Regions from separate parts of the Homo sapiens genome. Here regions 2, 3, 4 and 5 are each linked to region 1. Evidence: fine-mapped expression QTL. A gene starts in region 1. Each other region holds a variant in brackets. All regions are shown on one strand. Distances are between the middles of the regions.

What was found.
Region 2: its variant is fine-mapped to the expression of PPP2R1B in caudate (GTEx, PIP 0.99). The same link has a PIP of 0.9 or more in whole blood.
Region 3: its variant is fine-mapped to the expression of PPP2R1B in whole blood (TOPMed, PIP 0.96).
Region 4: its variant is fine-mapped to the expression of PPP2R1B in putamen (GTEx, PIP 0.97). The same link has a PIP of 0.9 or more in nucleus accumbens.
Region 5: its variant is fine-mapped to the expression of PPP2R1B in whole blood (TOPMed, PIP above 0.99).

What each region holds. Positions count from the first base shown.
Region 1 is chr11:111,764,033-111,769,135 of GRCh38, forward strand. PPP2R1B (protein phosphatase 2 scaffold subunit Abeta) reads right to left here and starts at 2,357. Exons shown (of 15, transcript NM_002716.5): 1 at 2,216-2,357; 2 at 1,262-1,352; 3 at 773-873. The coding sequence starts at 2,329. It also overlaps a transcript of ALG9 not described here. RefSeq lists enhancers at 1,383-2,286, 2,173-2,352, 2,373-2,422.
Region 2 is chr11:111,911,329-111,916,431 of GRCh38, forward strand. CRYAB (crystallin alpha B) reads right to left here and starts at 442. Exons shown (of 3, transcript NM_001289808.2): 1 at 196-442. The coding sequence starts at 396. It overlaps HSPB2 (heat shock protein family B (small) member 2), which reads left to right and starts at 1,406. Exons shown (of 2, transcript NM_001541.4): 1 at 1,406-1,595; 2 at 2,113-2,765. The coding sequence starts at 1,502. The coding sequence ends at 2,567. It overlaps HSPB2-C11orf52 (HSPB2-C11orf52 readthrough (NMD candidate)), which reads left to right and starts at 1,408. Exons shown (of 5, transcript NR_037651.1): 1 at 1,408-1,595. RefSeq lists an enhancer at 2,157-2,810. The variant G/A (reference allele first, on the strand shown) is at 2,764.
Region 3 is chr11:111,734,185-111,739,287 of GRCh38, forward strand. It overlaps PPP2R1B (protein phosphatase 2 scaffold subunit Abeta), which reads right to left. Exons shown (of 15, transcript NM_002716.5): 15 at 3,693-5,103. Among named protein-coding and RNA genes, the nearest start is that of PPP2R1B, 30 kb to the right of the region's middle. RefSeq lists an enhancer at 860-1,496. The variant G/A (reference allele first, on the strand shown) is at 2,143.
Region 4 is chr11:112,610,054-112,615,156 of GRCh38, forward strand. No RefSeq gene overlaps it. Among named protein-coding and RNA genes, the nearest start is that of LINC02764, 57 kb to the left of the region's middle. The variant G/A (reference allele first, on the strand shown) is at 2,787.
Region 5 is chr11:111,647,349-111,652,451 of GRCh38, forward strand. All of the region lies in intron 3 of SIK2 (salt inducible kinase 2), which reads left to right. Among named protein-coding and RNA genes, the nearest start is that of SIK2, 47 kb to the left of the region's middle. The variant T/A (reference allele first, on the strand shown) is at 2,528.

The DNA of each region.
Region 1 (5,103 bases):
CCTTTAAAACCTAGTTCAGACATCATCTCCCAAGGTCTTCCCTGATCACCCGGAGTGAATCCCTTTCTCCCTTCTATTACGTGGGTATTTTGTGGGTACTTATATCTTTCCATTTACGACTGCACGGTAATTATTTGCTGACACATAAAGGCAGTGACCTCATTAGATTCATTTTGGTGGTCTTTTTTTTTTTTTAAGAGATGGGGGTCTCACTATGTTGCCCAGGCTGGATTCAAACTCCTGGGCTCAAGTGATCCTCCAGTCTCAGCCTCCTGAGTAGCTGGTACTACAGGCTTGTGCCACCAAGCCCCCTCACATTGGTCTTCTTCAACATTAACATTGTAAACTATGATGTGTCTGATAAAGTAGACTCTCAATAAATGTCAATTAAATTGAACTAAATTCATCAAACTCACAAAGTCAGAAGCAAAAGTTAAACTGACAAAGACAAAATGCTGCTAGGTGAGAATTAAAACTTCCACCATCGCGCGGGGGAACCATAAAAACAATCAAACCCTTTTTCTCCCTACATCTAAACTAATAAGTCTACAGACGCAGAAAAGGAGGACGAAGTTCTCTTATTTACAGAAAAAAAAAAAAGGAGTTGAGTGCAAAGTGCCTACAGTACTTATTCTCTCAATGACTAACATTATGACTATCTGCCCATAAAAAGATCTGCATAAAAAATGCTGCAGTGTGTCTATCACCAAACAATGTATCATTTATACTGCAAAAGTTGTAGAAGGAGGGTAGGCAGCTTATAAATACTCACCAGCAGACAGTGGGCAAAGTCAGGACCTCCCACTAGGCCAGTGAAATTTCCCAGCTGCTCAGCAAGAGCTAATAGTACCTCATCTTCATCATAAATTGTATCTGGAAGTGACAACAACAGGACTCATCAACATGGATAGCTCTCCCACAGCTGGACACTGACACAAAACTAGGAACAGATTCACTATGCGACCAGGAAGGTGACCCAGTCAAAATCCTAACAGCATTTTCTTTCTTCTCAACCGTCTTCCTGTATCTGCTTTGCACAACGAATTAGAAATTCATACTCCCGTATCAATTACTTTCAATAGCTAAATGGTTGATGTTTGAATATATCTAGCCACAACTAACAATATACTCTGTTCTGTTTCTTTTGCACAAAAAACACCTGGCTCATTTTAATGTGGGTAATAAACTCTAAAAAAGTCAGTGTTGAAAGCTACTGGAAAATGGAATGTCCCTACCTTTCTTTAAACAAAGATTCACATACCTGTAAGAAATGGCAACAATTCACTTCGGGTCCTTTCTACTCCAAGTGCTAGGGCAATTGTTGATAACTTCTTAATACTGTTGAGTCGGAGCTTCAGAAAAGAAAGTAGAAAGAAGAACAATGTAAAGAAACGGCTGAATTTAGATCAAAAGACAAAAGGTGCTAACAGGTGAAATTATGACACAGGGGTAAGAATGAAGATAACCTTTCATTTAGATTTTACTGTTAAGGAAGCTCATAAGGACTTCCAAAAAGAAGTGTAACTCGGCCTCACTAGCCGGCGGAGGATTTCCCAGGAGAAACACTCAGAAGGGACCGGAAGAGAAATGAAGGAAAGACAATACAACACCTAGGAAGTAAGATAATTTTAAAAAGAGAGCACTTTGGCAGTGGTGAAGCAGGTGAAACGGTTGAATACAACACCTGTGGTTTCAAAGAAAAGTTCCCACAGAGCGGATACACTACTCGTCCAGATTAATCGGCCATCCCACCCCCGCTTTCTACCCAACAAGCCGAGCCAGTTCCAAGCCGAGATGAAGGGATCCAGGGGCACTTCAAAGGGCTTCTGGGCATCCTGCGCCCCTCAGCCGCTCCAGCCCCGTCTCGGCCTGGCACCGCGCTTCTCCTGCTCCCTCGCCCAAGAGACGCGGCCACCTCACGGCCCGGATGGGGCGCCCAGGCGGGAAGCGGGTTCCCCGACAACCGCCCGGGAAGGGCAAGGCTCCGGGCGGACGCCTCAGGGGGTCCGAAGCAAGGTTACTAGAGAGGTACCCGGGAGGGTCGGGGCGTGTCACCACAGCCCCTCGCGGAGCATTCCCCGCCTCCCCTTCAAGTTTCTGCTACGAGTCCGACTCATTCAGTACCTCGGCCACCCCCACCGCGACGCAGGCCTTCCCCCTTCTCTACCACGCGACCAGCCGGTCTCGCCTCGGGTCCCCGGCCTCAGTCCAGTACCTGCACGTCTTCATTGCGGAGCTCGTCGATTAAAACCGCGATCGGGTATAGCGAATCATCTCCATCTCCACCCGCTGCTCCTGGGCCGGTCCCGAGCTCTGATGCGCCCGCCATGTTCTTTCTCCTCCTGCTGCTGGTCACCGCCTCCCGCCCCGCGCCCAGGCCCCGCCCCGCGCCCAGGCAGTAGGGACGAAGGCCGCCACGCTGGTTTAGCCGAAGTTGGGGAGCCGCGTTTCTGTCCCGATGATTAAGGCTCCCTTCTGACCCCCACTGCAGGAGTTGTAGGTCTGAACTCAAGAAGACGGGTGGGCTAAGAAAGCGAATGGAACCCCTGCGTCCTTTCCCCAGCCGAAAGAAACAGGGACAGGGATTCATCCAGCTCGTTGTAGTCTGAAGGAGCCAGGAACCTACCTGAATGATCTGCGCTGTGCCCTCTTAAGACTCAGGCGGACCAAAGAGAGTGCCCGAGGCCAGGAGGAAAAAGGCTTTAGCACCTCCCCTGACTTCTTCCTGGCCCTGAGCCACTGGATCTCCAGCCCTAATTTCTCCGCTCAGACTCAAACTTCCACAGAACCCCTCCACCTCTTCCCGCGGCTCTTTCTCCAGAATGGTATCTGGCTCCTGCTCCGTAAGACAAATAACGCGGGCGGTGAGAGAAAATGAACAGTGCTGTCCAAACTCCCCAGTCAATATTTTTTCCACGCAAGCTGTTAAAAACATGCTGCTCTCTTGTTTTTGTGTTTCTTTTCAGTTTGGTACTGGAATGGTGCCTTCTGTTGTATTTTCTTCCTCCCATTTTTTAGCTCTTTAGCATGCTAGAAGTACAACAATGAAGCAAAACTAGGACAAGCTTTAATCCTTCCAAATTGGGTGGGGTGGCTACTTTCTTGAGCAAGAAAACCCAAACTGGCCTCCCTAGACCTCCAAGAGTCCTCAGAGGCAGCAAGGGGAAGAGGTGGAGGTCTGGGAGCTCGTTCTTACAAACCTGAATGGAAAGTTTTCACTTACCCCTGTCAGGGTAGCACAGAATAATTAGAATGTTTTGTTTGTTTTAGACTGGAATTTAAGCAGCTTGGAGTGATAACTACATATGGTGATCACAAGCTCCGAAATGGTAATTCTATGTGCCTGATTAATAAAACTATAAATGCAGTGTAGGAGACAAACTTTTTTAAAACATGGGATTCTGAGGCCGAGGCGGGCGGATCACTTGAGGCCAGGAGTTCGAGACCAGCCTGGCCAACTTGGTGAAACCCTGTCTCCACTAAAAAATACAAAAATTAGCTGGGCTGGTGACGGGAGCCTGTAGTCCCAGCTACTCGGGAGGCTGACATGAGAATCGCTTGAGCCCGGGAGGCAGAGGTTGCAGTGAGCCAGGATCGCACCACTGTACTCCAATCTGGGCGGCAGAGTGAGACCCCGTCTCTAAAATAAATAAATAAATAAATAGCGTTCTTGGAAGTAAGCACAATAGAGCCTTTGAATGAATGAATGAAATAATGAATAAATAAATAAATAAATAAATAAATAAATAAATAAATAAATGGGGTTCTTGGAAGTAAGCACAATAGCTAGAGCCTTTGATAGTAATGAAAGTTTGGGAACCAGCAGACCTGAACAGTTTTTCTCAAATTATGTCTGCGAATGTATTCTCTAGGGTTTTAATTTTATTTTCATTTTCATATTTTTTAGATTTGTATAAGCATATTCTGAATTATTTGGGTGACCACCTTACAACCAAGTATTGCCACACAATTTCAGCACCCACATTTACATGTGTGTTTTAGTGCTGCTTTTATTGTTCTGGGATAATGAGAAAAGAACAGAGGTGGTTTTAAAATGACAATGATACTTTCATGCACAAAATGAAAGCCAAATGCATCATGAGATTGCACTATTTGGTAGTTGTAACAGAAAAATGGTGAGAAAATTAAGATATCAGGAGTCACTTGGTGGCATAGGCATGTTGAACACAAAAGAAGCTGAGCTATAGCAGGCAACACCATAGTAACAATACGACGGATGACAGTTTTAGCAAAATACATCATTTGTCACGTTAAATTACTATAATATTTTTAATTGAATAGTATTCATTTTGTGGTTTCATTTGTATTTAATTTGTAAATTTGTTGTGGTTTTTTTTTAGCTGTGTAAGAACTAGAAATAAAAGCACATTTTTCCTACTTTATATTCGTAAATTTAAATAACCACAGCATAATAAAAACAATTTAGCTAAACATGGTAACGCGTGCCTGTCTTCCCAGTTACTTGGGAGGCTGAGGTGGGAGGATCACTTGAGCCTAGGGGTTCATGACCATCCTAGACAACACAGCAAGACCCCCATCTCTAAAATAATAATAATAATGACTTAACTGAGAGTTTTCAGGATTTTAAAAAATTATTGTGTTGTGTGTGTGTGTGTGTGTGTTTAACAAACAGGGTCTTGCTGCGTTTCCCAGGCTGGAGTGCAGTGGCACAATCATAGCTCACTGTAACCTTAAACTCCTGGACTCAAGCAATCCTCCAGCCTCAGCCTCCTGAGTAGCTAGGACTATAGGCATGTGCCACCACATCCAGCTTCGTGTGTGTGTGTGCGTGTGTGTGTGTGTGTGTGTGTGTGTATGGAGACAGAGTCTCACCATGCTGCCCAGGCTAAAAATGGATTCATATATTTAATACTACCCAACTTGGAGAGACAGAGGGCTAAGAGGTTTTTTTAACTTAGTACTTTACCAGTTAGAAGATCAGAGGGGATTCCTGTAGGCATTGAGAGGAGGAATCTGTTTTCTTATACTTTATGTAAAAAGTCACCTGGGGCAGTGGTGCACATGATGGATCACTTGAGCTCACGGGTTCAAGACCAGCCATGGGCAGCATAGCAAAACCCC
Region 2 (5,103 bases), 150 kb after region 1:
AAATGGGATACAGAGGACTATCAAATAGAAACAGGTGATGGGGGAGGAAGGCACTAGCAACCTCCTCATTTTTCTTCACATTTGGACACACATGTGCCTAAAATGGTTTAGGCAGGGTAGGAAAGGAAAATGGATGGAGAAGTTTCCAGGAGGTTCCAGTAAGGACTCTCCCGTCCTAGCTGTGGGGAGACTCACCTCTGAGAGTCCAGTGTCAAACCAGCTGGGTGCCCGCAGGAAGGAGGGTGGCCGAAGGTAGAAGGGACTCAGGGAAGTAGACGTCGGGAAAAGATCAGACTCCAACAGGTGCTCTCCGAAGAACTGGTCAAAGAGGCGGCTGGGGGAGTGGAAAGGAAAGAAGGGGCGGCGGATCCAGGGGTGGTGGATGGCGATGTCCATGGTGGCTAGGTGAGTGTGAGGGGTCAGCTGGCTGGTCAGCTCCTTCAGCTGCAGCTACAGCCAGCCCCTTATATATGCAGTCTTGTGAAGCTTCTGGAATGGTGATGTCAGGGGTTTTATTATCCTAGCTCACCAGCAGTTCATGGAGACTTGTGATCCGGGATTTGGCAATGTGACACATACCCAGTACTCACTGAGCTAAGAAAAGAGAGACACAAACACGTCTGAGCCGGCCAGTGACTTGTCATGGTCTTGTTTCACTAGCTTTCTGTCCACACCCAATGGCACCCACCCCCACCCCTGTTCTCTGAAGCTGGTACAGAGTCAGGAATCCCAAGCAGGCACGCGGGGTGGGGGGAGGATGGGAGCCGGCGTAGTGTGCCCCTCCTCCTCCTTTCCAGTCCTGAATGCCAGGGGAATCAGGCCAGCAACTATCTTGGGCCTGGGCAGGGACTGGAATCTTCCTAGGCTGAGCCCCAGGGACATTAACTCTTTGTGAGTCCTTGGAAGAGAGCAGTGATGGTCAACATGTCAGCACCAGCCATCTGCCTCGTGCCCTGGGTTGACCTGGGTTTAGGAGAGGATCCCACATCTGGGCAGAAAGACCCCACCCCCTGAAAAAAGAGCAAACAGATTTCTTGCATCTTTCGTTCTATGTGGCTCTCAGAACATTAAATCCAGGAGTGCTTTAGGAATTGGGTGCACAGTGCCTGCCACCGAAGAGGAGAAAATGAGGTGTGGAAACGTGCAAACCGTTTGTGAGGGTCTCAGCGAGGCCTCTTCATGCCCCAGGCACCACCAGCTCCCCCTCCCCAGCTCGTTCCCAGCCAGGACCCTCAGCTGTCCTCTCAGGCCCCCTGCGACAGCTGAAGAGTGTGCGGGGGAGGGGACTAGGGGTCCGGGCGGCGCTGGTCACACCCTCGTTGCTCTCACTCAGGGCCCCCACTCCCAGCCCCTCCCCCCCCAAGAGGCTCGGCACTATTTTGGGTGGTGTCGACCCCGCCCCCACCTCCTATCGAGCCCTGGCTCTCCGGGCAGCTGGAGGGGTCGCGCTGCGCCTGTTGGGGCTGCACCTCGGACCAGGGCTTCTGCTGCATCTGCAGCCATGTCGGGCCGCTCAGTGCCACATGCCCACCCGGCCACCGCCGAGTACGAATTTGCCAACCCGAGCCGCCTGGGTGAGCAGCGCTTCGGAGAAGGTATGGCACAGACACCACCCCCTTGCCCCCCACCCCCACCCCCTGAAATTCTGGGCTGACCTCCCAACGTTGCTGGCCTCCACCCCACTCTGGGCTTAACTGATCTCCTGGGACCAGCCACCCCCCACCCCAGACTACCCCTCATCCCCTCCAAGCAGAGATCTTTCCCATTCCTGCTGACCTCAAGACACACTTGGTGCTTGCAGTGCTGATACCTGCTCTTTGCCGGCCTGGGTGTGCCTCCTTGTCCCCCTTCTATCCACCCAGGCCGTTTGGTGCCTCCTCCTCCTCCCCCTCCTCCTCCTTCTCCTCCTCCTCCTCCCTTTCCTTTCCGTTCTCTTTCCCCTCTTCCGAGCTGCCTTCTCCTCCTAGCTACAGTGTGGCCTCCCTCCCGTTCCCTACTCCTCCTGACTCCCCTCTTGCTCTTCCCAATCCCTCCTCTCCAGATTTCCCATTTCGCCCCTGTGCCAGCCTCATCCTCCCTCATCCTGCCTCTTGCCTTCTCTCTGCCCTTTAGGCCTCCTGCCAGAAGAGATCCTGACCCCCACACTCTACCATGGCTACTATGTCCGGCCTCGGGCCGCCCCAGCTGGGGAGGGCAGCAGGGCAGGGGCCTCCGAGCTTAGGCTCAGTGAGGGCAAGTTCCAGGCATTTCTGGATGTGAGCCACTTTACCCCAGACGAGGTGACTGTGAGGACTGTGGATAACCTGCTGGAGGTGTCTGCCCGGCACCCCCAGCGCCTGGACCGCCACGGCTTCGTGTCCCGAGAGTTCTGCCGCACCTATGTCCTGCCTGCTGATGTCGACCCCTGGCGAGTCCGAGCTGCTCTCTCCCATGATGGCATCTTAAACCTGGAAGCACCTCGGGGTGGCCGACATTTGGACACAGAGGTCAATGAGGTCTACATCTCCCTGCTCCCTGCGCCTCCTGATCCAGAGGAAGAGGAGGAGGCAGCCATAGTTGAGCCCTGATTGCCACAGACCCAGCACCCAGCAAATCCCTCTCTACCTCCCAAGGTGATATGGGCAGCTGCCCACCACTCCAGAGGTAGCAGCATCCTTGGGGGAAGGGAAAGGTGCATGGTCCACAATGTATGGTTTGGTCCCATGGGACATGTCATAGCCTTGGTTTAGTTTTGGGTGGAGCTGAATAAACCCAAATCTCAGG[G/A]CCTTGTTTGTACTGCTCCCTATTCTGTGGCCGGGAAGCTGGGATGGGGAGGGAGGGAGGAGGTCACAGCCAGCTAGACAAAAAGCTCCTCAGTTTGATGTGCCCAACGTCATAGGACCCTGAGCTCGCACTTGGATGCTGAGATCACACCCGGAAGCTGACTCTGGCTCCAGATCAAATTCCTAGCCATAATTTTCTCACAATGCAACAAAAGAGAGAGTGATCCTGGGAGGGAAAAGGGATATGCCATCCAAACAGCCCAGAGGGCACTGTCTGAGCTGGTGATTAGAGACACAAAAACAAGGGTCTCCAGACTGTCTGGCCCTTTTTGGGTAGGGGCTGGGAAAATGGTTTTTGGCTGGTGAGAGTTGCCTAAAGTCCTGGAGTGAATACTTTGTTTTCATGTACTAAGGTCTGTCCACTTAAATGGTCACTGATTTTGAGAGCCTGAGTATGCATACACAGGGCACAGACACAAAGCCTCTCCAATTATCACGGAACCCCATTACCTTCCCATCCTCTGGGGGTACGGTGTATTCAGGAAAGCCTGAGGTCTGTCCCCTCAGTTATTCTCTGCAATCAAGAGAACATCCAGCTACATGATTTGGGGGAAGTGTCCAAAAGACCTTCCTGCCTCCAAATACATATTTCATTAGGCTGTGGTAGATACCTACAATTCTTCCATTAAAGCAGTTGTTTCTTGGCTGGGTGCAGCAGCTCACACCTGTAATCCCAGTACTTTGGGAGGCCGAGGCAGGAGGATCACTTGAGCCCAAGAGTAAGAGACCAGCCTGGGCAATAGAGTGCAACCTTGTCTCTACAAAAAAATAAAAATTAGCCAGGCATGGTGGTGCATGCCTGTAGTCCCAGCTACTTGGGAGGCTGAGGTGGGAGGATGAGCTAGGGAGGTTGAAGCTGCAGTGAGCTGAGATTGCGCCACTGCACTCCAGCCTGGGTGACAGAGTGAGACCCTGCCTCAAAAAAATTAAATTGAATTGAATTAAATTAAGTGGTTGTTTCTTAACTTTTGGGAGTTATAGACCCTTCTGAAAATCTGACAAAAGCTATAGCTGCTCTTACCAGAAAAATACATATGCTCCCAAATTTGGCAATACAATTTGAATAGGTTCCCACAACTCTTAAGACCCATTCACATACCCCCCTTAGGGATCTGTGGACCTCCAGGATAACAGAACTCACTTGAGGAATTCGACTTTTGGTTAAAAGATTGCTGTCTATTAAAAATGAAAGCATGCCCCAGAGAAATAACATTTGACATATTTAACTGTTCATTCATTCATTCAGTAAATATTTATCAAACCTCATGTAATACACCTTGGGGGATATACATTGTAAATATAAATTATAAAAACTATTAGCTTTTATTGTCAACTTTCCAGAATCTAGTTGAGAAGAAAAATAATAAGAAAAGGATTCTACTTAGACTTCAACCAAAATAGCTTCACATTGATATGTTTTGTAACTGAGCTTTATTTAAAGGAAAGGGTTTCCTAGCTATAAGAAATTTGAAAACTTCTGATTTAGTCCAAATCCCCTCTCCATTCAAATGCTTTTAAAGTTATTAATCAACTTATTCGGGGACATTCTGAATAACAGACAACTTAGAACTTCTCACGGTAGTCGTTTCCATGTTCTTTCTTTTCTTTTTTAGACAGGGTCTTGTTCTGTTGCTCAGGATGGAGTGCAGTGGCATGATCATGGCTCACTGCAGCCTCAACCTCCCTTGCTCAAGCAATCCTCCTGCCTCAGCCTCCTGAGTAGCTGGGACTACAGGTGTGTGCCACCACGCCTGGCTAATTTTTTACTTTTTCTGGAGATGAGGTCTCGCCTTGTTGTCCAGGCTGGTCTTGAACTCCTGGACTCAAGCAATCCTCTATCCTTGGTCTGCCACAGTACTGGGATTACAGGTGTGAGCCTCTGTACCTGGCCTTCCATTTTCTTTTTGGTCTTAACTGACTTAACCGTTATAAATTCCTCCTTTTGTTGAATCAAAATCTGCATTTCAGTAACTTCTCTGGAAAACAAACACAATGGTTTTTTCACTGAAAATCCTTCTGATATTTAAAGATAACCATCCTGTCTTCCTGAGGCTTCCCTTTCCCAGCTAAACATGCCTAGTTCTTTTTTTTTTTTTTAAGACAAAGTCTCTCTCTGTCACCGAGGCTGGGTGTACAGTGGTGTCATCTCCCCTCACTGCAACCTCCTCCTCCTGGGCTCAAGCAATCCTCCCACCTCAACCTCCTGAGTAACTGAGGCTACAGGCATGCGCCACAACACCTGGCTAATTTTTTGTAGAGACTGGGTTTCGCCATGTTGTCC
Region 3 (5,103 bases), 30 kb before region 1:
TACTTTAACTCTTGCCTGCCCCAACACTAGGTACAGAAAATGGCTGCTTCTTGCCTGTGAGCTCTGTCTTCACTGACTTAAGGGTGGTTGTGCTGTTCTGAGCATCTGCTTCAGGCTAAGAACTGGGAACTCTGCCCCAGGATTTCTGAATTTTCGGAAATGAGTTCTAGGCATCAGACATGGGTACCACAAACATAAGAACATCCCTGAGAATCTATGTCACAGGTAGGAGGACTTTTTTATCTCCAACTGTTAGGTCAAGCTCCAGTGTGGAAAAGACTTGGAAGGCCTGGGGGAGTCTTTTTGTGCGGACAGCTCGGCCCCTAGGCCCCACAGTGGAGAGGGCACTGACAGGAGGTCAGCCTAAGGACCTGCTCCCGTGTGCCCTGTCACCAGCCTACGTCTGACTTCCCCATGGACTTCAAGGTCCAATTGCCTTAGCTGGAAGCCACTGGGGATGGGACTGAACATCCCTGGGCTTTGGTCTTTGTCATCAGTCCTCAGTTTGACTGGACTCACATCTCCTGTAGTCTTTCTGGGTTCAAGAGAACAAAATCCGCTGGCCAAGAGGTTGGCCCTTAAGGAGCTCCTCCCCTTCACACACTCCCAGCAGAGCTCCTCAGAGCTGCCCTTGAGACCCCCCAGGGCAGCGCGAAGGCCCTGCCAGCCTAACTCTGTGGGAGGAACAGGACATGCAGCTAGATGCTAGAGGCTGGCTCTAGGACAAGTGAGGTTCCTGAGCTGCAGAATGGCTCCAGCCTCAGGCCCAGAACAGCCTGGTTCACCAGCAGGTGCTGATTAAATCCAGAGAAGAGACCCGCATCGAAAGGCACAAGTCAGAGACCCTCAGGGCCCAAGGGACTCTCTGAGTTTGGGGAAAATAAGGCAGGCAGGAAAAAACCAGAAACAAGAGTAGAAGGGGCATGGAAGGCAGAAGATGGTCTTAGCTGGGACGTGGCGCAGGGGCTGGTCTCGGGTCAGTGTGTGTACAGGACAGACTGTGTGCAGAGAAAAGGAAGAGGAGGAGGGTGGGCGCAGTCAGGCAGTGTCTGTAGCCATTATTTATGGATGCTTCACTTGATTTTAGTCTCCAAACCTGGGCTCGGCATGGAGACTGAATGTCCCTCACAGCTGCTCCTTCCTGCAATAACAAGACTGACATCACTGTTGTCAGGGAAATGGTGTTTTGATTAAAATCATGTGACAGCTACTTGGTGATTCAATAAACAAATCCCCTGTTAACCCCTGCCTGACAAGGCCCGTCAGCAGCTTCAGCGGGGGCACCCTGTGTCCCGTCCAGGAGTGAGCCGCTGCCGGACCCGCGGCAGCAAGGTGTGGGAGGTGACCCTCGCTGCTCCCTGGCAGATCCTGCCTGGGTGGACACATGTGACATCCAACACAGAGGCACCTCCACAGACTTCAAGGGTGCCAAGGAGGCGCTCTTCACCAAGGGAGACTGGCTCTCGCCCTTTCCCTTTTCTCTTCAAGTGGCGGGCCCAGCCCCAGGGATGTCCAATGGCTCCCTGAGGGCCCTGAGGCTGGCTGAGAACTGACAGTTCCCAGGGCTCTCAACAGCAGCGCGCTCACGCTCACCCCATTCGGACAGATTGGCAAGTCCACTACGCACCCTAGACAGTGAGGGGTTAAGAACAATTTCTGGTTGCAATTGGATGACTTCCTGGATCACTCACTTGGCTGCTGGCCCCTGACACACAGGGCTCTGCCTGGCAACAGCCAATTCCCTTTCCATCTCACCCTCGGGTCATTTTCCTTAAGTGAAACAAATGCATGGAAGGCTCCCTGAGTCATGGGGCGGGGGATTTTTCTGAGTTAAATGAACTGAAGCCTCAGAGGCCTAGCACCACTGGGCCTCCTTTCCTGGAAAAAAGATTCCCAAATAGACATGCCAGGGGTTGGAGGAGATTCATGAGGGACCAAAAAACAATGATAGCACCTACCACCTAGGGTGGGTGAGGATGACATGAGATTTGAAGTGCCTGACAAGGTGCTGCAGTGACCAAGGCTCGAGTAACGGCAACTTATTCTCAGTAACTCCTCGGCTAGCAGAGGCAGCCCGGGCCCTGTCAGAGCTGAGCAGGTCAGCCATGGGAGGGCCGCCTCAATGATCCACACTCAGATCGG[G/A]TCATACCACGCATTCATGGCATGAGCAGCTGGCTCTGAATTTGTAGGAAGACGTAACCCCTTTCTTCCCAAAGAAGTCTGTGGTTTAGGCCTAAAAAATGTGTAACTGTCACTCCCACTCCTTCAGCCAAGCTCTCCTCCCTGAGGCCCAGTTCTGTGAAGACGACATGGACTCCAAGGGCTGGCCACCCCTGGAATCCAACTGGACAGTGGTCACCCAGCCCTTCCTCTCACTGTGCGGCCACTGCAGGAACGGCTGGAGCTGCCCACGGACAAGTGTGCAGCCCCTCAGGAAGGCAAGAATGTTCTAAGATGAGTGACTGCGATTCTGGACCTCAACAAAAGGCAAAAAACGTTTTCATGGTTTCGGTTCACATAAAATGAAAAGCCATGTGACTTAAAAGGCAGCCTTTTTGATGTTACTTCATTGAATTTTCACTAAGCGAACCTACTAGAATGGGTGTGAGAATGTCAGATTTTTCCCCATGAACTAAACGCAGTCTGGCATCCGCACGAGGCAGCCAAGCCCTGCTGCTCTCCTTTTCTGAATGTATCTGTAAGCCACAAATCGCCCTCCTAATGAATGGCCCTGGGGCAGTGGCTGGCACCCACTGACTGCTGAACTGGGGCTTTTCACACCATTTCCACACAGAGTGGCATCCAATGGGGCTTGTAGAACATCTGAGCTGTTACAGAGAAACTTGCAACTATTTTTATCTTGAATGGAAATAACTGAGAGGAATTATGGCAAGTCACTTCTATATTATGTGAGGAAAGTGGGAACAGCCCCTTTTTACAAGCAATTCTTCACCAAACCCCACTGGTGTCCTCTGTATGGGCCTCGCTGTTGGACTGGGAGGTGATAGGAGATGGGCCTCAAGCTACAAGAGTGACAGCTCTGGCCGGCGACCCACCTCTCAGAAAGCATTCCCAGAATGAAGTAAGCCAGCAACAGGCTTTAACCATCTACTCCCGGCCCTTAAAATTGGACTCTTCCCCTGGGGACAAAGTGAGAGGTGCTGCTTCTCCGCCTACCCTGTGGCAGCTCCCTGCACACCATGCCACCCTGGCTGCCCGCAGCCCTGAGGGCAGGACTTGACCCCAGGCTTCCGGGCACTTACCTTCCCCATGTCCTCTCCAGGCACTGTGGGTCTTGGGAAGTGGTTCTTGTCAGCCCGAGGGACACTGGGTTCTCCACTGTCCTTCACAGGAAATTCTAGCTTCCTCAGCCTTTGTGCCACCACTAGAGACACAGACAGTGGCGCTGTAACTGTCCCTGACCAGGGCACATCCCTCCCAAGCCCACCTGTGCTTCCCAGCCAGGATGCCCTCAGTTGTGCCAGCAGAGTTGGGTGTCCAGCAGCAGCCTACAAGTATATGGGGCACTGGGCAGAGAAAGCTGGGGCAGCCCAGGGTCGTGCTGAGGTGCCTTTCCCTCGGGGCCCTGGAAAGCGCCACCCCATCGGGCCTTTTGGTGTCCACCTGGCTGTTCCCCACATCCTGGTCACTGATGGTCTCCAGAGCCCCAACCACAGGAAAGACCTGGCTCCTTTCAGAACTCATATCAGTTTAAGAGAACAACTCTGGAGACAGAAATGGCTTGGCTTTCCGACGCAATGAGTAATTAAACTCTATTCGTCCTCCGGAAGATTTCCATCCCAACTGAACGTTATGTAATTTCCTGGAAACAGCAGGCTCGTGGAGGCAAACGGGGGACAGTGAGACTATTCTAGGTACAGAGGACTGGAGGGAGACATGCGAGGGAAGAGGAAAGAGGAGAGTAAGGAACTGGATGGAAACAGGAATACTGGAGAATCAAAGGGAAACAGTTACATCACATCAGACTGCAGTCACCTCAGCTGCTAAACCAGGAGAACACTGGGCAACAGGGCCTCTCCCTCTACAGTTTCATATCCAAGCAGTGGAGAAAAATAAGAAGCTTTACGATAAGAGTGTCACCATTTTTAAAAGTCAGAGGAATTTAAGTAAAAGGCAAGAGGACAGAACAAGCACCTGACCTGTTTGGCCACCCTGCCCTGCCATCGCCACAGGGACAGAGCCAATGTGACGTCTAAGGGCAAGCCCCAGCCTTTCAGTTTAGTGACAACACAACAGTTAACAAAGGAACAAAAGTGCACCAGGTTAACCGCCGGGTCAGGAAGGACAGGCTTGCTTCCCTGGAAGTCTACGCAAGCAACCTGAATGCCTGGACAAGCCAGCTCAAAGGTCAGGCTGCCGTCTCTGTTGAGTCAGGACAAGTTGTCTGGCAAAGACCCCTGGGGCTCTGCATCACAGTGGCTGAGCTGTGGTATTTCTGTGAGCTGAGGGCAGCCCGTTATTTCAACAAGACCTCGTTAGAAACCACATATTCACCTGCCTTCCTTCTTATGAAACAAGATGCATCCTCAGGTTCACATCTTCTTGGTAGCACAGAGAGAGAAACAAGACCTGGTCTCTTAAACCTGTGAGGGGTAAACCCCACACAAATTACAGAGAGAAACACCAAGGTGAATTCCACTGTTGCTGAGACATTTTTATTGGCATAGGTTATATGTTTGTGTGTGTGTGTGTGTGTGTGTGTGTGTGTGTGTGTGTGTGTCTGCTTCATTTTTCTAATCAAACAAACAACTGATGTAAGCTGCCAAGGATGAAAAACAACATTACATGTCTGAAGCAATCAGACAAATCCACACAGAACTGTAGTCTAAGCCAGGGGACCAGAAAAGGGCCACATAAAGCTTGTTTCCTGAAAGCAGGAAAATCTTTCTGTCAGTGGGAGAATAAGACACAGTCTGGTTCTTTTGATTATTTGTTCCATGCACACATTGGAGGATATTTTAGAAATTCATCCATTGAACACATTTTTATTGAGCACCTATTATGTGCACCAGACACTGTTCCAGGCACTGGCGATACAGTAGAAGATAAAACAGACAAAAATACCAGCCTTACAGAGCTCCT
Region 4 (5,103 bases), 850 kb after region 1:
ATATAGGAATTCAGAAATGTCATCTGGTGCTTTGCCAGATACATATGGGATGGGATGAGTTGGATTCATGGACAATGAGTAGGGTATGTGATTAGGTGCAGACACAGTGGCTTAAGTAACACTGGGCTACCTGTTACTTGTCTCCATAGTGGCGTGGAAGAGGGAGCCCATTGACCTCTAATTGGCCTTTCTATTCCCTAGATAGAAGCACTCTATTTGGACTGGTTTACAGAGGAATGGTTTAAAGCAGCTTTGCAAACAAGGCTCAAATGTATCTACCTTCTTTTCTTACTTAAAAAAGGGGTTTTAATACAAAATAAGAGTTACTCTCATTCACCCTAGAAGAATAGAAGGGTAGGTTTTCTTGCAAAGCTGGCCTGTCAATTTCTTTAAACAAAAGCACTGTGAGAGTATCACCTGTAAATCATTTTGTAATCTATTCATCCATTCACTCATTTGACAACTGTGTACTGAGTTCCCTTTATATGAAAAGCACTGTGCTAGTACTTGGGAATAAGCAAAGAAGCCTTCAAGGAACTCATAAGAGAACAAGTCAGGTTAACACACATCTGTCATCAAAGGAGGAGAGAGCAACAATAGAAGTAGGGGATGAACTGAGCCTCTTCTATTTCTGGGATGTGTGTCAAAGTTTCAGAGTACAGATGGTGAAAAAGTGTTGTAAGATGGAGCCAGGGACTGGACCTTCATTCTCTGTGAGATTTGGCATGGTATGACCACCTCATGACTAATAAATATCTCCCTCCAAGGTGTAGAATGAAAGTTACAGAGAGAGAGATAACTGGGGTAATAAACATACAGCATCTCTCTTGGTCTCCAAGTCTCCAGATCATGTAAACCTCCAGCTCTGGGACCAGAATTCAAAATAGTTACTTTCCATGTGTGTGTTACCTGGCCGGATGTAGCACCAGAACCAAGGAGGAGGGAAAACATGTCCCTAGTCCCATCTACCTCCTAAGTCACATTCATCTGCTCTAAGTCCCTCAGTATCTGGCTCCCTGGAGGCAGCACCTTCACTTGAAAACCAGGTGGCCCAATAAAACTGAAGGCAAACCTGAGAGCAGGGAGGTCTATCACAGGAGTTGAAAAAGGGCAACGGGGGTGGAAATCTTTTCTATCCAGCAGAAGAGGAAATTACTCATTTCCTTTAAGGCTAAGTTACCCTGTGTTAGGGTGGACTGCAGAACAAACTAACATAGGCAACAATAAAGCCCAAGCTGGAAAGCTGGGATAGAAACTCTGCCCCCAACAGGGGTCTGTAAATAACTGTTGCATGGATGAATGAAATGCATATGTGCGTACCATATTCTTCTAGCCCAAGATTTGATTTGGTTTCCATGTCTAGAGGCCAGATGCCTACTGGGAGGTCTTCCAAATCACCAGTCTTGATTTTTTCTTAACTGCTCTCAGGGGATCCAGGGAGTGATTCTGGTATCTGGCACCAGCAGCATGGCACTGTGCCCCGAGAGTATCAATGCACTGCTCATATTGGCTTAGGTCCATGTACCCGCTGAGCAGAGCCTACCACCCAGATGGTATAGACTTGGATTCCAGTCCACTTGGAATGGCCATGTCTTGCCAACTCCATCTCCAAGGGGACAGTCTGTACAGAACTCACATGCCAAAATACCCGGGAGTTTGCCAACCAAAAGGTGGTGAGTGGTCTTGTCCCATAAGCGCCACTTAAAACAGGCAGCAGATGGGAAACTGGGGCAGGAGGTGGAGAACAGCTGGATGATATTTGCTGCATAATAGCTCTTAAGGGATTTGAAAATCATTGTTTAATTTCCCTTCTCACCTTCTCATGTAAACAAGTGTCCTATATCAGGGGTGTGGAAATCAGAATTTTTGGTGGTTGACGCTCATCTTCACAGGCTCTGCAGCCACCTTCTTCCTGCCTGCCAATACACACACATGCATGCACGTGGACACACACAGACACGAGTGTGCACCGATGCACACATACGCATTCAATTCTGTCGACAGGGGCCTTATTTCATTTATTAAGTATCTAAAGCCTTGCTAGGAGCCTAGGCTTCCTCTCTGAAGTCTCTTTTAAAAATTAAATCTGGCTCTTTGGGGCTGCAGCAGGAAAACGGAATTTGAGATACAGTAATTCTAGATATTTATATCCTCCCATCATTTGCTCAGTTAGTCTTCTGCAGCTGCGGTTTGTTAGGGATTATCCCACCAAAAGGAATAACAGAAATACACATATTTAATAAGATTTTTTTTTCTCCATTTCTGTTTCTGGTTCTAAATAGGCACTTGGAGGAAGGGAAGCTCTACCATAGGAGAGGATCTCAGGGCAAGGAACAGTTGTCCAGCAGCACAGGGTTGGGGGTGGGAGGGGGGAGGGGAGGGGAGGGGACGCGCCTGCAAGGAGGGAGGAGGGAGGGAGACGGGAGCCTGGAAAAGCTGGAACTGGATCCTGGTCCCAATGTTCATACAGAGGAGAGGACAGTGGTTCTGCAAATGCCCCTTTACAGAAGAATTTAAAGCGCAATTCTGATTTCTTTAGCCCATGGTTTGAAGGCCAGGTGTTCTGTGGTCTGAGCAATCCATTACCTACCTTTCTTCATCACTTCTGGGTGGAGTTCATTTGGCCCCAAAGAGAAGTTCCTGATCTTGGAGGACTCTCCCTCTCTCACTTTGACTTCATGGAGCCTTTCTTCCTAGGGGTGGAAGGGCTGGCTGGTAGATACCTGGGTATGGGTTACCACACCTGCAGGCCCCAGGGGCGCACAAACACCCTTGGCCTCAATCCT[G/A]AATGACCTCCAGGTGCACAAATGCTCCAGGGCTACATTTCCATTGGCCTTTTGACTCCTATTAACAGTGTCCTGGGGACTTTTGGCTGGGGGTGTTATATAAATGTTTTTTGAGTCTCATCTGCAATAATCCCTCAGTCCAGGCAAGGGTTTATTCTTTCTTCTCTGAGAAAACAGAGAAAAAGACAAGACTTTTCTTCTCTTTAAAAGCTGTGCCCTTTCTGTTGAGAACCACTCACTTCAGCACTCTGCAATGTGGTGAATCTCCCCAGGCTAACTCCTCCTATGATGGGAGCTCAGCATAAAAATTACAGCTGCCTCAGAGGCCACCTGACCCTGATGCATCAATCCCTGGAGTGAGGCCAAATCACCACTTAAAATGACAATTCTGTACAAAGTGGCACAATGACATGTTAAAAATATATAGATGAATATAGATGTAATATGAAAATATGTATTTTTACTGCTCTCCCCATCAGAAGCAGGCATGTTAAAGGTATTAATCGGCATTCCTCTCCAGAGGGATCCTCTAGTTATGTGCTTTGGAAGCCAGACAGGAAGTGTGAATCATGCAGCAATGCAAAATTAATCCAGACAAAATGAAAAATGAAATGATGCAGCCAAGGTATCTGGGATGGAGGGGCCAGGAGGGTGAGAAGTCCTACCCTGTCTTCCCTGGCTCTCTGCGGGAGAGGAAAGGCTTTATTTGTAGGGGGTGGTTGCTGAGGGACCTGGGACCTCCCCAGAGCAGGATGAGTTGATATGTTCTCTCATTGCCGAGGAGTAGAATACCTGGGGAGGGAAGGTCAGTGCAATGGCCCAGGCTTCCAAACGGCTGGCCCTGACTTTGAGGGCACCTCGAAACTGGTTGAAAGCTTGGCAGGTATACCCGGAAGACACAGATGTGGTTCCTGTCCTCCCACCCCCACAGTGCTGGCTCCAGACATGTGCAGAGTTGGAGGTGACTCAGACCGTGCACGCACCTGTCCCCAGCAGATACTACTCCTATTGTAGGGAGTGGAAATTTCCCAGAGTAGATTCCTTCTTCAGAGGTGGGAAACACAGAAACAACCTTTTCTTTGTATCCAGATTTTTTTTATTTTTAAAAAAGACAAGGGCTCTTTCTGTTGTCCAAGCTAGAGTGCAGTGGTATGATCATAGTTCACTGTAGCTTTGAACTCCTGGGCTCAAACGATCCTTCCATCTCAGCCTCTGAAGTAGCTGGGACTACAGGTACATGCCACCACACCTGGACAATTAAAATTTTTTTTTTTTTTTTGTAGGGATGGGGGTCTTGCTATGTTGCCCAGGCTGGTCTTGTACTCCTGGCCTTAAATGATCCTCCCGCCTTGGCCTCCCAAAGCACTGGGATTATAGGTGTGAGCCACTGTGCCCAGCTTATTTGCAGATTTTAATTTCCTAAAAGCCTACCCATGGGTAATTCCTGAGTGTTTTTCTCAAATAACCCCTCAGTTCAGACAGGAGAGATAATCTTTTGTTCCTTCCTGTTTAAGGACAGAAAATGACTTTTCTTCTCTTAAAGTATCTTTCCATTGCAGGCAACTTGCTCTGGGTCTTTGTAGTGAGATGTGAAATCTCTGGTCCTGACAGACTCCATGGATCACATTTCTGGAGTGAAAGAGTAATTAGGTAGCACGCTTTAGTGTTTTTCAGCCCCTTCTGGGTTTACTGGCAATCACACTGCAGTTTTCTCTTTCTCTGTCAGCTTTAGTATTTGCTACTCTGTCTATATCCTTTTTACTCTTGTTTTAGTTTTTGGAGTTCTAATGTCTGTCTTTTTGAAAACTTTTAAATTCAGACATAACCTGCACAGAGGAAACTGTACACTAATCTCACATATACAGCCTCAATGAGTGCTTCTATAGGAAGACGTCTGATAATCCCCTACCTAGGACACAGAAAATCCTACCTAGGACACACAAAAAGGAGTGTACCTGAACAAGACCAGTCCTGTTTATTCTGAGTCATCTGCTCTTTCTTGAGGCAAATGGGACACTCAGTCAGCCAGCTACCCTGTCAGAGGGAGGGTTGATGGGGCTGGGGGGCACCTACCTTCCCAAGCACAGTAGAGAGCTACAGAGCTCAAGTTCAACCCAGGTCAAGTTGAACAACACATCAAGCCTCCTGGGAGGGCTTCCTCTTGTCCGTTTCTCAGTCCATTCTACCCCACTCCCCAGGCCCAAGCCCATCACTCACTTCTATCATGGTAGTGAGATTTTTTTTTCTGCAGTTTCATATGAATGGACTCATATAGTATAAATTCTTGTGTCTGGCTTTTGTTCATTCAACATTATGT
Region 5 (5,103 bases), 120 kb before region 1:
CAGATTAAATCATCAATCAGATTTTTTTATTTGAGTACTAGATTTAGATACAGTTAGCCAAAATACCCCTTTTTTCCAGACTGGGCAACATGGCGAAATCCCACATCTACAAAAAATACAAAAAATACGCCAGGCATGTTGGCATTGAGACTGCAGTGGCCATAGTCACATCACTGCACTCTAGCCTGGGTGGCAGAGGGAGACCCCCATCTCGAAAAAAAAAAAAAAAAAAAAGGCTGAACACGGTGGCTCACAGCCTGTAATCCCAGCACTTTGGGAGGCTGAGGCAGGTAGATCACGAGGTCAGGAGATCGAGACCATCCTGGCTAACACGGTGAAACCCCATCTCTACTAAAAATACAAAACATTATTAGCCGGGCGTGGTGGCAGGCACCTGTAGTCCCAGCTACTTGGGAGGCTGAGGCAGGAGAATGGCATGAACCTGGGAGGCGGAGCTTGCAGTGAGCTGAGATTGTGCCACTGCACTCCAGCCTGGGTGACAGTGCGAGACTCTGTCTCAAAAAAAAAGAAAAAGAAAAACCTCCTTTTTTGTCATGAAGATGGTTTTTTTACTTTTTTTCTATTTATAGATGAAAATAAGTCTGCAGTCTCAAAAATGGAGTATTCCATTTTTATCATATAGTAAATGAAATTTCTCTTTCTAAATCAAATGCAGCTGGAAAAAGAATTACCCTTGGAATTAGGGAATCTGTAATGTTAAAAAATAAGTTGTTTAAGGATGAGCTTGCAGTCAAAAAAAGAAAAAATAAAGAAAAAATAAAAATAAGTAATTAAGAGATTTTAAAACATAGTTGTAGAATACTATGCATGGTATGATTTCATTTGGGTTTTTAAATATATTATTACTATTTACTATTTAAAGCAGTTTATTTTAATGCCTTAGTTCTCTTGAGCTGCTATAACAAAATACCTTAAACTGGGTAACATAAGCAACAGAAATTTATTTCTCGCAGTTCTGGAGGCTTGGAAATCCTAGATCAAGGTGCCAATGGTGTCTGGTAAGGACCCACTTTCTCAGATGGCACCTTCTCACTGCATCCTCACACGGTGAGGGGACAAGTTAGCTCTCTTGGGTCTCTTTTAATGGGCACTAATCCTGAACAGTGCCCTCATGACCTAATCATCTCCCAAAGGCCACACCTCCTAATATATCACATCAGGGATTAGATTTCAACGTATTAATTTTGGGGAAACACAAACAAGACCATAGCATATAATATGGGCTCCTATTGATATATACTGTAAATATATTTATACATGAAATATATATATTTCATGTATATATATATATTTTCACAGACTGGTGAAAAAGTTTAGAAAATATGAATCAAGCTGTACAGTGGTTGTATCTATGGAGTTGGGATTATGGGGAACTTTCATTTGTACATTGTATGTTTGTTCTTGTGTTTTAAATTTTTTCACAATGAGTATACACTGCTTTTCCTACTGGAAAAAATAGGTACTGTATTTTCATCTGGAACAAAAATGAGACAGCTCTACAGTTCAACTTAGAGACATGTTAGCATGTAGATCTTTTGGAGAAGCTCCAACGAGAGAGGAAGCTAAGGCAAGTGTGTCTTATTGCTGCAGTATATGTCTCCCTACCAATTATGGTCTCCTGCTCAATGTGTTCTTGAATTGTTAGTCAGCAAAATGAATACTTTTTACTCTTTCCTAAATTCTGTCAGGCTACACATATTTTATAATTGATATGTAGCTTGTCATTCCAGTGTTCTAGTGCCCCTTATATTTCAGCATACTGTAGCTGGTTAAGATAGTGTCACATAGTTTCATTCTTTTTTCTGTGCATTTGTCTCTCCATCTGTGAGTACAGCGTTGTGTTGATCCTTGCACATATTCCATGTATCTCTCTATACTCTGACTTTGAATCTGCTAATCAAACACTGTACACTTTAGTTGGTGACCACTGTGTCCTAAAATAATATATTGTTACTGTAAATACATGATAAATTATTTTCTCTGAATCAGGTAACATCTCACTATAAATGAAGGTAACCACATGAAGGTATTTGAATATATTACTTACAGTACTTGAATATAGTATAAAGTTTTTACTTTATACTATAAAGTATAAAAGTAATACTTTTATACTTTTTTCCCTAATAAGGGAAAAGTCACTTATTAGGTACCAGGAGACTTGTGTAATTATCCAGCTCTATTATGTACTTGGGTAGTTACATTATCTACTTGGGGCTAATAATGCTTGCTGTGGTAACCTAACAAGGAATGAACATTCATTCATTTGTTCATTCATGAGGATTAAGCAAGATAATGTATGTGAGAGTATTCTATAAATGGTAACATACAATGCAGATGTAAGTCTGTACTTCTGTTATTGTGCTAATACAGAGTCTCTGTGATGGCATAGGTGGCAGTGATGTCATGATGGTGGTGGGAGTCCAGAAGGAAGATACTGCAAATACTTTTTTCAACATCACTTTCTCATAACTAACAAGATCTTTTCTCCAGAATAGCTCTATTTTTT[T/A]AAAAAAATTAATTGTGCTAGGAGCTCTCATAAGTATTTGCATATCCAGAAGTTGACCTAGGGAATAAAAAGAGGCAGAAAAATAGTTTAGTGGCTTACTAATTAACACAAATTTGAGTTATATGCAAACTCAGTAGTGTCTTCTCAGCATTAACTATAGACAGTTCATTTGTCCTGAAAGCTTTATTGTTTGATTGTGATTGTGTAGATCTTTCTCCCATAAAACATTGGATTAGTAGGTGTACATATATGCTAAACAACTAAAATACAGCTTAATATCCTTAATTTAGATACATTTTAAATCTTAACTTTAGCAATTATCTTTTCCTTTGGCTTCTCTGGGCAACTAGATTTCAACTCATGACTTGATTAAGCCATCTCCATTTTGAACTTTCTGAAAAAACGGAAGAAAATCTCTGATTTTTCATAGTAAAACATAAATTTAATTACTGGTAGGTATATATTCTACTTGCTTTTTTTGAAAGCTTTAGGGAGAATTTCAACCTCTGCATTAAAAGTCAGTAAGAAAAAGCTCTTACGACAATAACTTTCCCCTAAAAAGCACAAATGCTTCTTTGCCTGTCATTTAAAAAATATTTATTGTGCACTCAATGCAGAAATTGTAATGATATGATGCTCTAGTAGAGTTATAAAATCTTTGACGTAATTATTAGTTTGGAGAAAGTAAAGGCCTAGGTATCAATATCTAAAAATATATAAACATTTTTTTGATCTTAAACAGTCATTCTCAACCTCTTCCATTTTTTCTATTCATACCTCTTATAATTCAAACAGCAAAATATAAATCCTTTGAATTGATTATGTTGCTTGTTTTTTCCAAGTTACTCTATGTTGAAAATAGGAAAAATATATAACTTTCATAAAGTTATATAAGGTAGATGAAAGTAATAGACTTGTGAAGCAAAGTTGTATTCAATAGAGCTAAAACCAAAGTGAGCTCTACTTTAATGTTTAATCAAAGTCCTAAAAATACGGTTGGTCTTAGTAGGCATGAGTTTTCTAGAAAGAGTACTATTTTGTTGAATTTTGGCATAGAGGAAAAGTAATGTTTTATATCTTTTGATTTTATACATGAAAATAAAAATGATTTTTACCACTTTTAATGGACCTCTGTCTTTTAGGAGCACATCTGACTTCACGTTAGAGTTATATATTAAGTTTTCTCAAGCTACATATTCTTTACTGAGATGCTTAATATTTCACATATCATATAAAAGGAAGATTGTTCTTTAATTTACTAAGGTAAAATTAACCAAAAGTAATTTAAATTTCAGTTATTAGTGTAGCAATCTGTAGGAATTAGGTAGACTCTGAGTTTGAATTGGAAACTTGCTTGTATTTAGTTGTGTTTTTTTAAGGTAAAATAATGTGCTTACAAAGACATGGAATCAACCTAAATACCCATCTATGATAGACTGGATAAAGAAAATATGGTACATGGAATACTTTGCAGCCATAACAAGAATGAGATCATGTCCTTTGCAGGGACATGGGTGAAGCTGGAAGCCATTATCCTCAGCAAACTAATGCCGGAACAAAAAGCCAAACACCACATGTTCTCACTTATAAGTGGGAGCTGAACAATGAGAACACAAAGACACAGGGCGGGGAACCACACACCCTGGTGCCTGTCAGGGGAGGTGATGGGAGGGAGAACATCAGGATAAATAGCTAATGCATGCAGGGCTTAATACCTAGGTGATGAGTCGGTAGGTGTGGCAAACCACCATGGCACACGTTTACCTGTGTAACAAACCTGCACATCCTGCACGTGTATCCCAGAACTTAATAATATGCTTACACTTGATGTGTATATAGGTAGCCATTGTTTGTACATTCATTCATTCATTTAACAGATATGCATTGAACACCTACACTATGGCAAGAACTCCATTTTAATTATTTTGCTACAGCGTAAGTTGCTATTTGGCTTTGTCAGTGGCAAATACATTATTCCAGCCAGGAGGACTTTGCAAGCTCTATAGCTTTTTTCTTGGTGAGCTGATAATTTTAATGGAAGTCATTTGCTACTCCAAAAGCTTTGCATGAATGCTGCATAGGAATAATTAGAAGCTGTAACAAGGAGTCAATTCTTTGTACAAATATTTATCTCACATAACTTTATATGATTGAAGATAATACATCGGTGCTTCTAAGATCCCACCTAAACACAATTTCTTTACAAACCTGTCAAAATTATTGAGTATCCGCTGTGTAAAAATACAGAAATAAAAAAGATAAATATTACATATATACATACATATATATACACATACATATGTGAAACAATGTAATCAATCTTGAGATAACAAAAAACACATAGAACTTCAAGTCTTGTCATTAGATACACTAAATCTGTGGGAAATTGGCAATGAAAAAGTTATGACCAAAATGAATTGCTTCTGAGTTTTTAGCCATTTTTTTCAGTCAGTTGGGACATTCATATGTGAGGATTATGGAATGTAAGGAATGACAGAAATTGGTAGAGCAGCGAAATCTAGTCTCCCAGTTTGCAGTTTTGCCAAGAATTGCGGTGAGAGATTGTATGTCATTAA